Linked DNA regions of Homo sapiens. The protein of the gene in region 1 interacts with the protein of each later gene in a biochemical or structural test. Each region holds a gene or a part of one and is shown in the gene's direction. Other genes may lie near its edges.

What was found. The genes of interacting proteins can lie anywhere in the genome.
Region 2: the proteins of MTNR1B (region 1) and YWHAQ form a complex in vitro, tested with the Homo sapiens proteins (one large-scale study listed by BioGRID).
Region 3: the proteins of MTNR1B (region 1) and FLNA form a complex in vitro, tested with the Homo sapiens proteins (one large-scale study listed by BioGRID).

Annotation. Positions count from the first base shown.
Region 1 is NC_000011.10:92,971,115-92,976,150, forward strand, and holds part of MTNR1B (melatonin receptor type 1B), read left to right. Parts: intron 1-5,036.
Region 2 is NC_000002.12:9,585,998-9,590,265, reverse strand, and holds part of YWHAQ (14-3-3 protein theta), read left to right. Parts: intron 1-1,937; coding exon 1,938-2,101; intron 2,102-2,756; coding exon 2,757-2,852; intron 2,853-4,268. UniProt on the Homo sapiens protein: Adapter protein implicated in the regulation of a large spectrum of both general and specialized signaling pathways. Binds to a large number of partners, usually by recognition of a phosphoserine or phosphothreonine motif.
Region 3 is NC_000023.11:154,364,635-154,368,902, reverse strand, and holds part of FLNA (filamin-A), read left to right. Parts: intron 1-812; coding exon 813-1,061; intron 1,062-1,164; coding exon 1,165-1,262; intron 1,263-1,358; coding exon 1,359-1,506; intron 1,507-2,052; coding exon 2,053-2,171; intron 2,172-2,263; coding exon 2,264-2,341; intron 2,342-2,432; coding exon 2,433-2,595; intron 2,596-2,678; coding exon 2,679-2,879; intron 2,880-3,416; coding exon 3,417-3,554; intron 3,555-3,643; coding exon 3,644-3,767; intron 3,768-3,945; coding exon 3,946-4,082; intron 4,083-4,183; coding exon 4,184-4,268. UniProt on the Homo sapiens protein: Promotes orthogonal branching of actin filaments and links actin filaments to membrane glycoproteins. Anchors various transmembrane proteins to the actin cytoskeleton and serves as a scaffold for a wide range of cytoplasmic signaling proteins.

The DNA of each region.
Region 1 (5,036 bases):
ACACCCAGGTAATTTTTTATATTTTTGGTAGACACAGTATTTCACCATGTTGGCCAGGCTGGTCTCGAACTCCTGACCTCAAGTGATCCACCCGCCTCGGCCTCCCAAAGTGCTGGAATTACAGGCATGAGCCACTGCGCCCGGCCAACTCTAGGATTTTTAGCTAAAAAAACAAACAAGAAACTCCTCCAACTGTGAGTATCCAGCCATCATATGGGAAACATAACATTATTAAGAAGAAGTAAACTTTCTAACTCACTTCAGTAGTGGTGGCTGTTTTCTGGAATACATTGTTCAAAATATTGTGTCCTTTGAAGAAAAGCTTATATATTAGGGAAAAACAGGTTATGATTAGAAAACTGCATTTAATATTTTTGACACATTGTCCCTTGCAGCCATCATAAACATTCATTTCCAGCACAGGGAAGCAAAAGGGAGACAACTCCTGGCTCTATGGGGGAGAAATGGGTCCTCCTGGTTCTGACATTGGCCCCTTCTGTCCCTGACTTATTGAGTATTTAGAGCAGGTCTGTCAGGCCATGGCTCCCTGCTCAGTAATTTGGATTGCCCACCATGAGAAAGGTGGTTGAGGGAAGTAGGAGTTGCTTCCTTTTGCTGGAAGGAGAAAAGCACCCCTCCCCTCCTGCATCCTACAGAGGGCTGGCCTTTTCTGTGATCCTGGCAGGGTCTGCAGAAACCTAACCAGTTTAAGAGCATCACTGGGGAGGGTCATGAGCATGTTAAATTGCTGGCATATCCTCTGTTCTATCTTTCCTACCTCCTGATGTGTCCGCTACAGCCCAGCACCCGAACAAAAAAAAATAATAATAACACTATATCTAAATGACATCAATTCCTGCCACTGCTGCAGTCTTGCAATTTAACCAGTTCTTATGTGACCTCTGGCTTTATTGGTGACAGTCACAAACAATTGTAGTACTGACTTGAACTAAATGATCTCAGCAGAGTGAGATTTCAAAAGGCGCTTAAAACCTACAGCTCTTTGAATAGTTAGCACACATTCTACTCTTAATCAGGCCTTGTCTTACTGAAGAGTTTGGATTTAATTTAAGAAACGCTTCTTCAGACCTTTCTGTACTTAAGTCTGGCTCCTTAAATCATTGGTATTAAAAAATTAAGTCTGTAACAATGAGAATACATATATTTCCAATAACCAAGATACATAGCCCATATTGAGGTCACAGCATGTTTCCCAGGAGACACCAGTATCCTTTACTTGCCTATCACAAACCCAGTTCCTCTATGGAGCAGATCTGTATCATTCCTAACAGTGCCGCTCCTGATGGCAGGGTGAGTGGTTAGATTAATTGTCTTTTTTTTTTCAGGGATATCCTATCTGTAGTGTCTGTTGCTGCATGTGGTGGGTTGACTTCAGAGATAGCACCAGAGAAAGGCAGACAGGGAGGAGTGGAGGCAAGGTGGGAGGTAGGGTCAGGGCACCGACCCAACTTAAAAGGTAAGGCCAAGTGTGTTCACTCTTTGCTACATTCTCAGAGTCTTGCACAGCCCATGGCACTGGGTTGGCACCTCACGCCTGTCAGATTGTGCTTCCCAGGGACTTGCCACACTTTTGACTCTACTGAGAGCCGTTGAGAACTTTCCCTCCTGGGCTCACCACTGCTGCCCTGACCCTTGAGCTACACCTCGCTAATATTTATCTCTTGCATTTTTGAGCTCTTCCTTTCTCTCTTCTGGAAACTTCCTCCATGTTACACACACACACGATACACAAAGTCTCCTGTTTTAAAAGAACAAAAGACTCTTTTCTTGACTTCATGTCCTCCTAACTTCATCACTACCTCTCTCCCTCCCTTTTCAGCCAGACATTTTAATGTAGTTGTGGACATCTACTGGTTCTACCCCATTGCTTCCCGTCCTTCCTCAGTCCTCTGGGCGCCATTCTCTGGAAATGTTCCTCTGTGCTGTGTGTGACACTGAGGGCCACTCCCTCTGTGGGACCTTTCATTCCCTCGGCTAACCTGGTGCTAGTTTTTGGATCTCCTTTTTCTCTTCATCTCCCGGATACCTGTGCCCTGAAAGTCATCTTTGGTTCCTCCTACTCTTTCATTCCACATGTCCTAATGATTTTACCTTCCACTATTTCTCAATTTCTCCCTTTCCTGCCTCCTTATTCTTACTGCCCCACTTCATGCCTTCATCATCTCTTGAGCAAACACTATCCATAGTGCTTGAGAGCTTTTCCTGCTCCCTCCCCCAGCCACTGTTACCACTGCCAAGAGTTTCCCTGTCTTCAGTGGCTGCCCTCCATCTCCAGAACAGTGTCCAACTCCAGAGCACAGCTCCCACGGCCATTTGCGGCTGGCCTAGCCCACCTAACTTACAGCCTCATTGCCCTCCTCTCACCAGTGTCACAGTGAGCTGCTGCTACTTCCCAAAGGGTCTGCACTCCCTGATGTACTTTCTCTACCTCTTCTGCCCAGTCAACAGCTGCTCCTCCTTCAACTCCTTCCCCAACTCCCCTGAAGGATTATCAATGTTGATTATTAATACCATGAAGGGGATAGTAAGTGTCTCCCTTGTTGGGCTTCTAAGATACCTGTGCCCTCCCCAGTACAGCATCCCCCTCACTGTACTATTGTTCTTTGTCTCTCCCCGCTGGACCGTGTACCTGCTGAGAGCAGACACTTTCATTCAGTTTCTGTCCACAGAGCCAGACACATAGTAAGAACAGAACACATCTCTGATTAAATTGGAAATGGATAAGACACCAGGTAGTGGGGGAAAATTAATTGATTTTGCTCCATGAGCTGGGATAGACCTCAGTTACAGTACTCAGCACTGCATAAGTAATCAATACAGGTTTTCATGAAACTGAACTGCTTTGAGAACAGCCCAAAGTATATCTCATGTTAAGCTGACTATTGGCACCTTCTGCATGAAGGCATGCTTGTTCTGTGATTCTCCTGTGTGAGTAAAGTTGCTCAGCAGTTTCCAGCCATGCCATGGTTGTACCCTACTGATTCCTCTTGGGGAGTTTGCCCCTGATATGCTTTGGCTGTGTCCCTACCCATGTCTCATCTTGAATTCCCACATGTTGTGGGAGGGACCTGGTGGGAGGTAATTGAATCATGAGAGCAAGTCTTTCCCATGCTGTTCTCACAATAGTGAATAAGTCTCATGAGATCTGATGGAAAAAGAGAAACTCCCCTGCACAAGCTCTCTCTCTTTGCCTGCTGCCAGCCACATAAGACATGACTTGCTCTTCCTTGCCTTCCACCATGATTGGGAGGCTTCCCCAGCCATGTAGAACTGTAAGCCCAATGAAACCTTTCTTTTGTAAGTTGTACAGCCTTGGGTATGTCTTTTGTTGTTGTTGTTTTTTGTGAGACAGAGTTTCACTCTTGTTGCCCAGGCTGGAGTGCAATGGCATGATCTCGGCTTACTGCAACCTCTCCTGCCTCAGCCTCCTGAGTAGCTGGGATTACAGGCATGAGCCACCACACCTGGCTAATTTTTTTTTTTTCTGAGACAGAGTCTTGCTGTCGCCCAGGCTGGAGTGCAGTAGCGCAATCTCGGCTCACTGCAAGCTCCGCCCCCTGGGGTTCATGCCATTCTCTTGCCTCAGCCTCCCGAGTAGCTGGGACTACAGGCGACCGCCACCTCGCCCGGCTAATTTTTTGTATTTTTAGTAGAGACAGGGTTTCACCGTGTTAGCCAGGATGGTCTCGATCTCCTGACCTCGTGATCCGCCCGCCTTGGCCTCCCAAAGTGCTGGGATTACAGGCGTGAGCCACCGCGCCCGGCCTAATTTTGTATTTTTTAGTAGAGATGGTGTTTCTCCATGTTGGTCAGGCTGGTCTCAAACTCCTGACCTCAGGTGATCCACCCACCTCAGCCTCCCAAAGTGCTGGGATGACAGGTGTGAGCCACTGTGCCCGGCCTTGGGTATGTCTTTATCAGCAGCGTGAAAACAGACTAATACAGCCCCTTTCTTGGTCTGGCCCGAGGTGGCCACTTTTAAGCTGCCTGTAATATGCTGGCCATATAAGAGAGCTGAGAGAACCATGTCCTCACTGTAACACCCAAGTACTCTCCACTATCAGAGAGGAAGTCATAACAACACCAGTTATTCCTGGCTCCATAGGCACAGCCACCTTAATTTTCCAAGTAGCAGTCAGAAGCTGTGGTCTGACAATGGATTTTTGTGCTGCAAATGGGTTAAAGAGGCTGTCTGGGAGGTTTAGTGAGTGCACGAATTGGCATTTCTGGGGTACGTTGATGATTGGTAAAGCAGAAATATATGAACTATTTGATGTTAAGATTGCCTAGGAAAACATGGAGGATTTGCTTGCTGAACACACAGATCTTTGTCCAAGGTCACTCTGTCTATGCTGGCAAAGCTGCCCCTCCTCCAGGCCCCCAGTGATGCTAAGAATTCACACCATCTCCTATCCAGAACCAGTAACTGCCTGGGAGGTTCCTGATGGGAATATTCTGCCTATGCAGGTGCTTTGCTTCCCCGGTTAGATTAGAAAACAGTCTGCACTGTGGCCCCTGTTCCTTGCCTCCTCTCTTCCAACTTGTTGACTGAGACAGCAAATGATGCTTAATAAGCAGCATGGTTCTGAACAAAGGCTCTGGAAGGCCTAGAGTGAAATGCTTAATAGGCCCACAGCCCCTACCCTCCAAGTTATAGAATGAAGTGGAGCCCACTCCATCAAGGCTTCTATCCTACCACCGACCACTCATTGAGATGTCACTTGGCATCAGGTGTCTTTTGACTTGCTCAGCCTGCAATGTTTAGAGTGCCATTATCAGCCCAAGACCAAACTGGGTAACCTTGGACTCCTTCCTGAATGTTTCTTAAGCTGTCCAACTTTGCATTTCAGCTGTGAATACCTTATTGCCTCTTCACTGAGCAAAAATGAACAGTTTTTAAATCCCATAATTATGTCTTTAGCTGAATAATCAGGAAAGCTAATAATCCTCTTTAATTCCTCCCATGTAACTTTCAGTAGCTCAAGGGTATAAAGACTTTAATGTTTGCCTGTCTT
Region 2 (4,268 bases), on another chromosome or scaffold:
GATACGGGCACGGAACTGTACATTTAAGTATCAGAAAGCCAAAGAGAAGTATTTGGGAGATTGAGACATAGCTGTAGCTTTAACCTGATTTAACCCTTAGGAGCTCATTGGCACTTTCAGGTCTCACACGTAGTCCTGTGTACATTCTGATAGGCTGCGATTCATAGATAGGCTGTCTTTATAGCCTAATTGCTGAGACACTGGTGCTTCCTAATTTGCCAAGCTGCAAGAACTTCTTATTGCATGTGGGCTGTACCAGTCAGGGATTAGATCAATAAATGTGCCATTTCAGAGGAAAGAAAATGAACATAATTCAGGTCATAAAGGGATAGCTTAATTCTCTTACGTCAGTATCTCTAAAGCTGTAATAGGCCAGTGGCCTCATACAGAAAACTACCCTTTTCAAAACATGGGTATAATCAGATTAGTGTTGGTAATACTGAACATTTTTTGAAGGGGGAGTAACATTTTAATTAGGCTAGTAATCAAACTCTGGTCAGAGCAGATTTTGTCCTATTTATTGAAACTTTTATATTGCCTTTCAAATAATACCACTTGATACTAAGAATCAGTATTTCTGCAAATCAGAAAAATAGAGATTTTGGTGTTGATGATCTTTGTAAAGTTTACATTATTTAGGGAAAGGGTATTCCAGTCAAATTATTATTATTATTATTAATTTTGAATGGAGTTTTGCTCTTGTTGCCCAGGTTGAAGTGCAATGGCGCGATCTTGGCTCACCGTAAGCTCCGCCTCCCGGGTTCAAGTGAGGCTTGTGCCTAGCCTCCCAAGTAGCTGGGATTACAGGCATGCATCACCACTCCCATCTAATTTTTGTATTATTAGTAGAGACGGGGTTTCTCCATGTTGGTAAGGCTGGTCTTGTACCTCCAACCTCAGGTGATCTGCCTGCCTCAGCCTCCCAAAGTGTTAGGATTACAGGCGTGAGCCACTGTAAATTATTCCAGTCAAATTATTTTTAATTGCTGCATTTCCAAGTAATAGAATTAAAAGACATAAAATAAGAAAATAGTTTTAGCCTAGGTATGGAAAAAAGTCTGATTTACTATAATATCTCATGTTTTTTTTCCATTAAGCTGTTTATATGTAAGCAACATTCTAAACTGGTTTTTTGTTTTGTTTGTTTGTTTGAGACAAACTGTCACTGAGGTTGGGAGTGCAGCAGCATGATCTTGGCTCACTGCAGCTTCAACCTCCTGGGCTCAAGGGGTCCTCCCACCTCAGCCTCCCAAGTAGCTAGAGCTACAGGCACGCACTACCATGCCTAGCTATTTTTTATTATTATTATTTTTTGTAGAGACAGGGATAAGATCTCCCTGTGTTGCCCAGGCTGGTCTTGAACTCTTCAGGTTCAAGTGATCCCCCTGCCTCACCTTCCCAAAGTGTTGGGATTAGAGGCATGAGCCACTGCACCTGGCCATAAACAAGTTCTTAAATACCCAGTACACAATATTGTTTTTGTTTGTTTGTTTTTGACACAGAGTATCGTTCTGTTGCCCAAGCTGGAGTGCAGTGGTGTGATGTCGGCTCACTGCAACCTCAGCCTCCCAGGTTCAAGCGATTCTCATGCCTCAGCCTCCTGAGTAGCTGGGATTACAGATGCCCGCCATCACGCCTGGCTAATTTTTGTATTTTTAGTAGAGATGGGGTTTCGCCATGTTGGCTAGACTGGTCTTGAACTCCTGATCTCAAGTGATCCACCCACCTCGGCCTCCCAAAGTGCTGGGATTATAGGCGTGAGCCACCGCGCCTGGCCACGATAATGTTTTTTGTTAGCTACCATGATTTTAAAAGACCCATACAGAGAAAAAATCTTGGTTCTACCAAGAGCTAGTAGCATATGTTCAAGTTGTTAATGTACTGTGTACTGGATGGTTATTTTTAATATTGCACTTCTTATTTTTCGCTCTTCACAGAAACGATAGATAATTCCCAAGGAGCTTACCAAGAGGCATTTGATATAAGCAAGAAAGAGATGCAACCCACACACCCAATCCGCCTGGGGCTTGCTCTTAACTTTTCTGTATTTTACTATGAGATTCTTAATAACCCAGAGCTTGCCTGCACGCTGGCTAAAACGGTAAGATGTGTGTCCAGGAAATACGTACTTTAGCTACAGTTATTTGAGATACCAGGTATGTTAATTTATAGGTATTTTACTTGGATACCCAGGGATGATTTCTACTATATTTATTTTGAAATCTCCTCTTTTTCTTCCCATCATGATTACCTACTCCTACCCCTGACACCTTACTCTACCCTATGATTATAAGCAGTGATGTGCCTACAGAGCATACTGAGCAGAGTAATCAAAGAAGGATAAATGATGTTAAGAAGGAAACATAAAAGATTAGAAAGTCATGCCTGCCAGGTTTGGTTACTAGAATAGCTGTGCATCAGCCACATTCCTCAAAGTGGCTCAAAACGAGAGAATAAAGAGGACCCTGTAGAGATAAGTACTACTTAACTGGAAAGAAGTCTGTTAAGCATTGCTGCTGTTCCGTTGTCCTGTGAAAGAACCAAGACATGCTTGTTTACTAAGTGTATAGTTTTATAAAATTCCAGTCATACTCATAAGTTCTTAAACTGGGAGTGTGAGAGAATGGTTCTGTTGAGTTTGTTGATGGTAGAACATAAGGTGGGTGTTCACTTATTTTGTAAAAATGGTTTGTAATTGTAGAATAACCAGTTTTCGTCAATGCACATATTTTACCATGGATATTAATATTTATCAGGCTTTTGATGAGGCCATTGCTGAACTTGATACACTGAATGAAGACTCATACAAAGACAGCACCCTCATCATGCAGTTGCTTAGAGACAACCTAACAGTGAGTTGTTTACTCTTTTAATTTTATTTTCTTTTCAGAAACAAAAGTATTTATATTTTATTTTGGACTTCGTGTCTTTTAGGGAAGATACATACGAGCTGAAAGTATGAGATACGTGTTAGTATTTTATGGGACGAACATTATTTTGTAGGCAGGTTTTCAAGTTGAATAGGCATTTTATCAGACCTTCCTGAGAAGGTTCTAACATGATAGGAACTCAATATTAATATTACTATTTCATTGGGATGAAGATGTTGATAAATTATGTTAATAAAGAGCTTATCAAGTTTCAATATTTTGGGGCAAATCAGCTATAGCCAGTTAGGGACTATCTAAATATCTACGCTTTCTTAAAATCACAGGAAGTACCTTGTTCTAATAAAAGTTTACTTTGTGAATTGTGCATGATGTTCTACAAGCATTTAGGGAGTAAACCTATACCTAAACTTACTCCTTCTCTGCTTCTAGGCAAAAGCTTCTGTTTTGTTTGTCTTTTTCTCCCTGCTTCTTAGATAGGCAATTGATAAAGGAAGTAATCAAGAAAAAGTACAGCTTAAGCTTTACTTTAACATTCTTTTGTAGGTTCAAGTAAATTTGATAGGTAAAATCTTAGACTTCACAGAAGGAAAAAGAAGGGAACAAATCTTTTAATATAGATCTCGTCCTCCCAGCCCCCTAGTTTGGTGCTTTATCATTTACTAGATAGGATTTTTTAAATATTAGCACCATGTCTATTCAATTTTGCTGAATAGGGTAATTATGAATCCACTGAAAGGGGAACGAAGACCCTGCATTTCTAGCCATGAGAAGTGCCTGTGGTTGTGAGGGGACAATGGAAGATGATCAGCAAATAGTTCTACAGAGGAAGAGCAAATTAGGCAGTTATACCTCTTCCCAGATGTATACCTTGGAGCTAACTATCTTTTAATCGGTTTTGTTTTGTTATCTCTATTATGGAGACAGGTCTTTGGGGGATTTTGTTTTGTTTGTTTTTATTTAGTATCTTCATAATAATCTAAGGATTATGTAAGATTCTGGCTTTTCTGAAATTAACACTAATGTCTTGCTGTTGGTCTAATAAAGTGCAATTATAGTCAATAAATACTGACTTCTCTTCTTCACTTCATCTTCCTATCCTAAAATCAGAGAGATCCTGGAAGATCCACTTAGTTTTAACATTCTGTCTAATTCAAGAACCCTGTCTATACATGCACACATTGCTTCCCTGTAGCTTCCATCACCCACTTCTATTTAATTCTTGGAGAAACACAAAGTAAGTCTGCTTTTCCTATAGTTTAGCCCTTCACACACTTGAAAATTGTTAACCATGATTGTGGCTTTTTCCTCCCTGTGAAAATGTTTTGCTTTATTAGTCTGTAATAATAATGCAGTAGTGCTTTCAAGAAGAGCATTGGG
Region 3 (4,268 bases), on another chromosome or scaffold:
CCAGAGGCCCGTTAGGTGGCAAGTGGGTCAGGCAGTGGGTGGCAAGGGGGTTCCCAGTGTCTCCTGCTGCCACCCCGGCATCTCCCGATGGGCCCCAGTGAGTCAGGGCCATGTGGCCCAACTGCTGGTTCCTTTGGGCTCTGGGCCCCTCCCCTGGCTAGGCCTGTGGCCTCCCAACTCCAAGCTTGAGTCTTCGAGGTGGTAGAGGAAGTGGGGGTGGTGGCGGGGGTCACAATCCCTCACCCAAAGGGCGTTTGCCCAACTCCCCCACTTCCCCTGCCTCACCCCACCCACCCTGGAACAACAGTTGTATTTCCCAACCACCCAGGGCCACCCACCTTCCTCTTCCTCAGCCCCAGCCCCACTCCAGGTCATGGGCCCTGGATTCTGGGCCAGCTGGAGTCAGCCTCCTCCTCCTGGTTCCCCATAGGCCCCTGAGGTGTGTGGCGGACCCCTGCTCTGGCAGCTGTGGACACTGTCCAGCTGTTCTCCAGAGCTGCCCATCTGCAGGCTGGGTCTGCCCTCTGCCCTTCCTCTGGGCCCAGGGCTTCTGGCAGTAATCATACCCTGCTGGCATCGTGTGTGTGTGTCTGTGTGTATCTGCCCTCACCCCAAAGTCTCCTTCACCTCTGAACACCCCCTGGGACCCTGGGCAGAGAGGGCCTCATCCACATCCTACCACTGGCCAAGAGGGGGTGTCTACCTCCTCCTTGGCCCCTGCTACCCCGTGCTGCCAGACCCTGACCCCAAAGCCTGGGATCGGCCCCTCCCGCACAGCCGTGTGCCCAGCGTGGCCACTCTTCTACTCACAGACAGCAAGGCCATCGTGGACGGGAACCTGAAGCTGATCCTGGGCCTCATCTGGACCCTGATCCTGCACTACTCCATCTCCATGCCCATGTGGGACGAGGAGGAGGATGAGGAGGCCAAGAAGCAGACCCCCAAGCAGAGGCTCCTGGGCTGGATCCAGAACAAGCTGCCGCAGCTGCCCATCACCAACTTCAGCCGGGACTGGCAGAGCGGCCGGGCCCTGGGCGCCCTGGTGGACAGCTGTGCCCCGGGTGAGGGGGCGCAGAGGCAGGAGAGACTGGGCTGGGGTCACCCATGGGTGGCCCTTGAGGGGGTTCTGCGGCCCCCAGACTCACAGCCTCCCTTGCGCCACAGGCCTGTGTCCTGACTGGGACTCTTGGGACGCCAGCAAGCCCGTTACCAATGCGCGAGAGGCCATGCAGCAGGCGGATGACTGGCTGGGCATCCCCCAGGTACACCCGCCCGGCCTGGCTACAGCTGTAGGGGACCGGATCGGCAGTTGGGAGAGACTCGGAGGCCCGATGGCTCCTGTTTTCTGCCTGTGACAGGTGATCACCCCCGAGGAGATTGTGGACCCCAACGTGGACGAGCACTCTGTCATGACCTACCTGTCCCAGTTCCCCAAGGCCAAGCTGAAGCCAGGGGCTCCCTTGCGGCCCAAACTGAACCCGAAGAAAGCCCGTGCCTACGGGCCAGGTGAGGGAGCCCCACCAGGGGTGCACCCGTGTGCCAACGTCTTCCCCATAAGACAGTGTCCCATCTAAACGTGGCGGTCCCCAGGGGTCTTGGGTTACATGGCGGCTAGGTGATCAAGCCACCCAAGAGTCAGACAAGAGTGGGTTTTTGGGACTAGTGAAAACGACAAGAGAATGCTAATAGGTTCCTCCAGTCACAGAAGCCTGCTGCGTGGGGTCCTCGGGGAGGTAGCATCCAGCGGTCTTTATTATAAATGGAGATGAACCAGGTCTCAGTAACAGGGACCTAAAACCCAGTCAAGGCTCACACAGGAACAAGGGCCCAGTGCGGTGAGAATGAATGTTCCAGAAAACAGGCTGGGCCTGTCCCAGCAGCGAGAGCACAGCTGGGTCCCGAGGCCAGGCTCTGTGCCACAGCTCACACTGAATGAACTTGCCCAGTTTGGAATGTGCCTGACTTAGGGGCCAGCAGGGAGGGCTGAAGGGTGGAGGGGTGAGGCTGTGGCCTTAACAGCTGGCCCGTGGTTGGCTCGCCTTCCCCTGCCAGGCATCGAGCCCACAGGCAACATGGTGAAGAAGCGGGCAGAGTTCACTGTGGAGACCAGAAGTGCTGGCCAGGGAGAGGTGCTGGTGTACGTGGAGGACCCGGCCGGACACCAGGAGGAGGTAGGGCCAGCTGCTGGCAGCAGAGGCCCCGCAGCGCTCCCTTTCAGTGGGGCTGCTCTTAGCAAAGGCTCACAGGCTCCTTCCCACTGCAGGCAAAAGTGACCGCCAATAACGACAAGAACCGCACCTTCTCCGTCTGGTACGTCCCCGAGGTGACGGGGACTCATAAGGTGAGCCCTTGGCCAGGGGGGAGGCTTGTGACCTCAGGCAGTGGCTGGAGGCCCCCAGCCCTACCCTCACGGCCCACCCTTCTGGGGACAGGTTACTGTGCTCTTTGCTGGCCAGCACATCGCCAAGAGCCCCTTCGAGGTGTACGTGGATAAGTCACAGGGTGACGCCAGCAAAGTGACAGCCCAAGGTCCCGGCCTGGAGCCCAGTGGCAACATCGCCAACAAGACCACCTACTTTGAGATCTTTACGGCAGGTGAGGGGAGGCTGCCAAGGCCCAGCTGGTCTGTGGGGAGAGCCGCACTGGGGCCTGGGAGCTGAGCAGGTGCCTCGTGGCAGGAGCTGGCACGGGCGAGGTCGAGGTTGTGATCCAGGACCCCATGGGACAGAAGGGCACGGTAGAGCCTCAGCTGGAGGCCCGGGGCGACAGCACATACCGCTGCAGCTACCAGCCCACCATGGAGGGCGTCCACACCGTGCACGTCACGTTTGCCGGCGTGCCCATCCCTCGCAGCCCCTACACTGTCACTGTTGGCCAAGGTAGGCCCGGCCCTGACTGCCCTCTGCTGTGGCACTGCAGTCTGGGCCTCCCACAGGAGGGGGACCCCCTGGGCCAGTCCCGCTGCAGCCCGCCCCGGGGCCCCTACTCTTTGAGCTTCTACTGTCTGGGCACATGCTGTTTTTCCTCCCCTGCTGGGGCCCTTCCTCCTCTCCTCTCCTCGCCCCTCTCCATCTCTCTCCTCACGCTTTCACCTTCGGAAGAGCTCGCTCCAGCTGTCTAGAAACCTGCTGCTCTCTGCTCTGCCCACAGGGTCAACGGTACTTGGATCTGTCTTCTTCTTGGAAGGGGGAGGGTGGGGGGCTCTGGGCTGGTGTGGAGCAGGTGGGAGGAGGCCTGCCATGTCCTGGCCCAGGCCACAGTTCCTGGGGTCACAGTCCCTTCCAGTTCTGTCTTGCATGTCCCCCTCCAGCCAAGCTCTGAGGGACCCACCAATCCTGACAGCCCGGCCCTGTGGGAGGCAAGGGAGGGGTCGCCCAGCCGAGCTGCTGGTGCTCAGCTGGCCCCTCTGCCTGCAGCCTGTAACCCGAGTGCCTGCCGGGCGGTTGGCCGGGGCCTCCAGCCCAAGGGTGTGCGGGTGAAGGAGACAGCTGACTTCAAGGTGTACACAAAGGGCGCTGGCAGTGGGGAGCTGAAGGTCACCGTGAAGGGCCCCAGTAAGTTGGCCTGGAGCCAGGCCAGGATGGGTGGCGGCAGCCCCCGGGTTCACTGCTGGGCAGGCCTGAGGCCCTCCTTGTCTTGGCAGAGGGAGAGGAGCGCGTGAAGCAGAAGGACCTGGGGGATGGCGTGTATGGCTTCGAGTATTACCCCATGGTCCCTGGAACCTATATCGTCACCATCACGTGGGGTGGTCAGAACATCGGGCGCAGGTGAGGCCCCCAGGCATCCCTCTCCCAGCTCTGCACACTCTGCCTCTTCTCTTCCTTCTGCCTCCCCACCTGATGATGAGGGGCCACATGGGCTCTTCCTGCCTGGCCGCCACAGTGGGGCCCACGCTGGCTCATGTGGTGATCCTCGGTGTTCCCTGTGTGGCTCTCGCATTTGCAGTCCCTTCGAAGTGAAGGTGGGCACCGAGTGTGGCAATCAGAAGGTACGGGCCTGGGGCCCTGGGCTGGAGGGCGGCGTCGTTGGCAAGTCAGCAGACTTTGTGGTGGAGGCTATCGGGGACGACGTGGGCACGCTGGGTAAGTTGGAGGCTGCAGCATGGGCACCTGGGGACAGACGATGGCAAGGACGGCCCACCCTGAGGCTCCAGGGCACTGAGGGGACTGGTGGCTGTTGTCAGGCTTCTCGGTGGAAGGGCCATCGCAGGCTAAGATCGAATGTGACGACAAGGGCGACGGCTCCTGTGATGTGCGCTACTGGCCGCA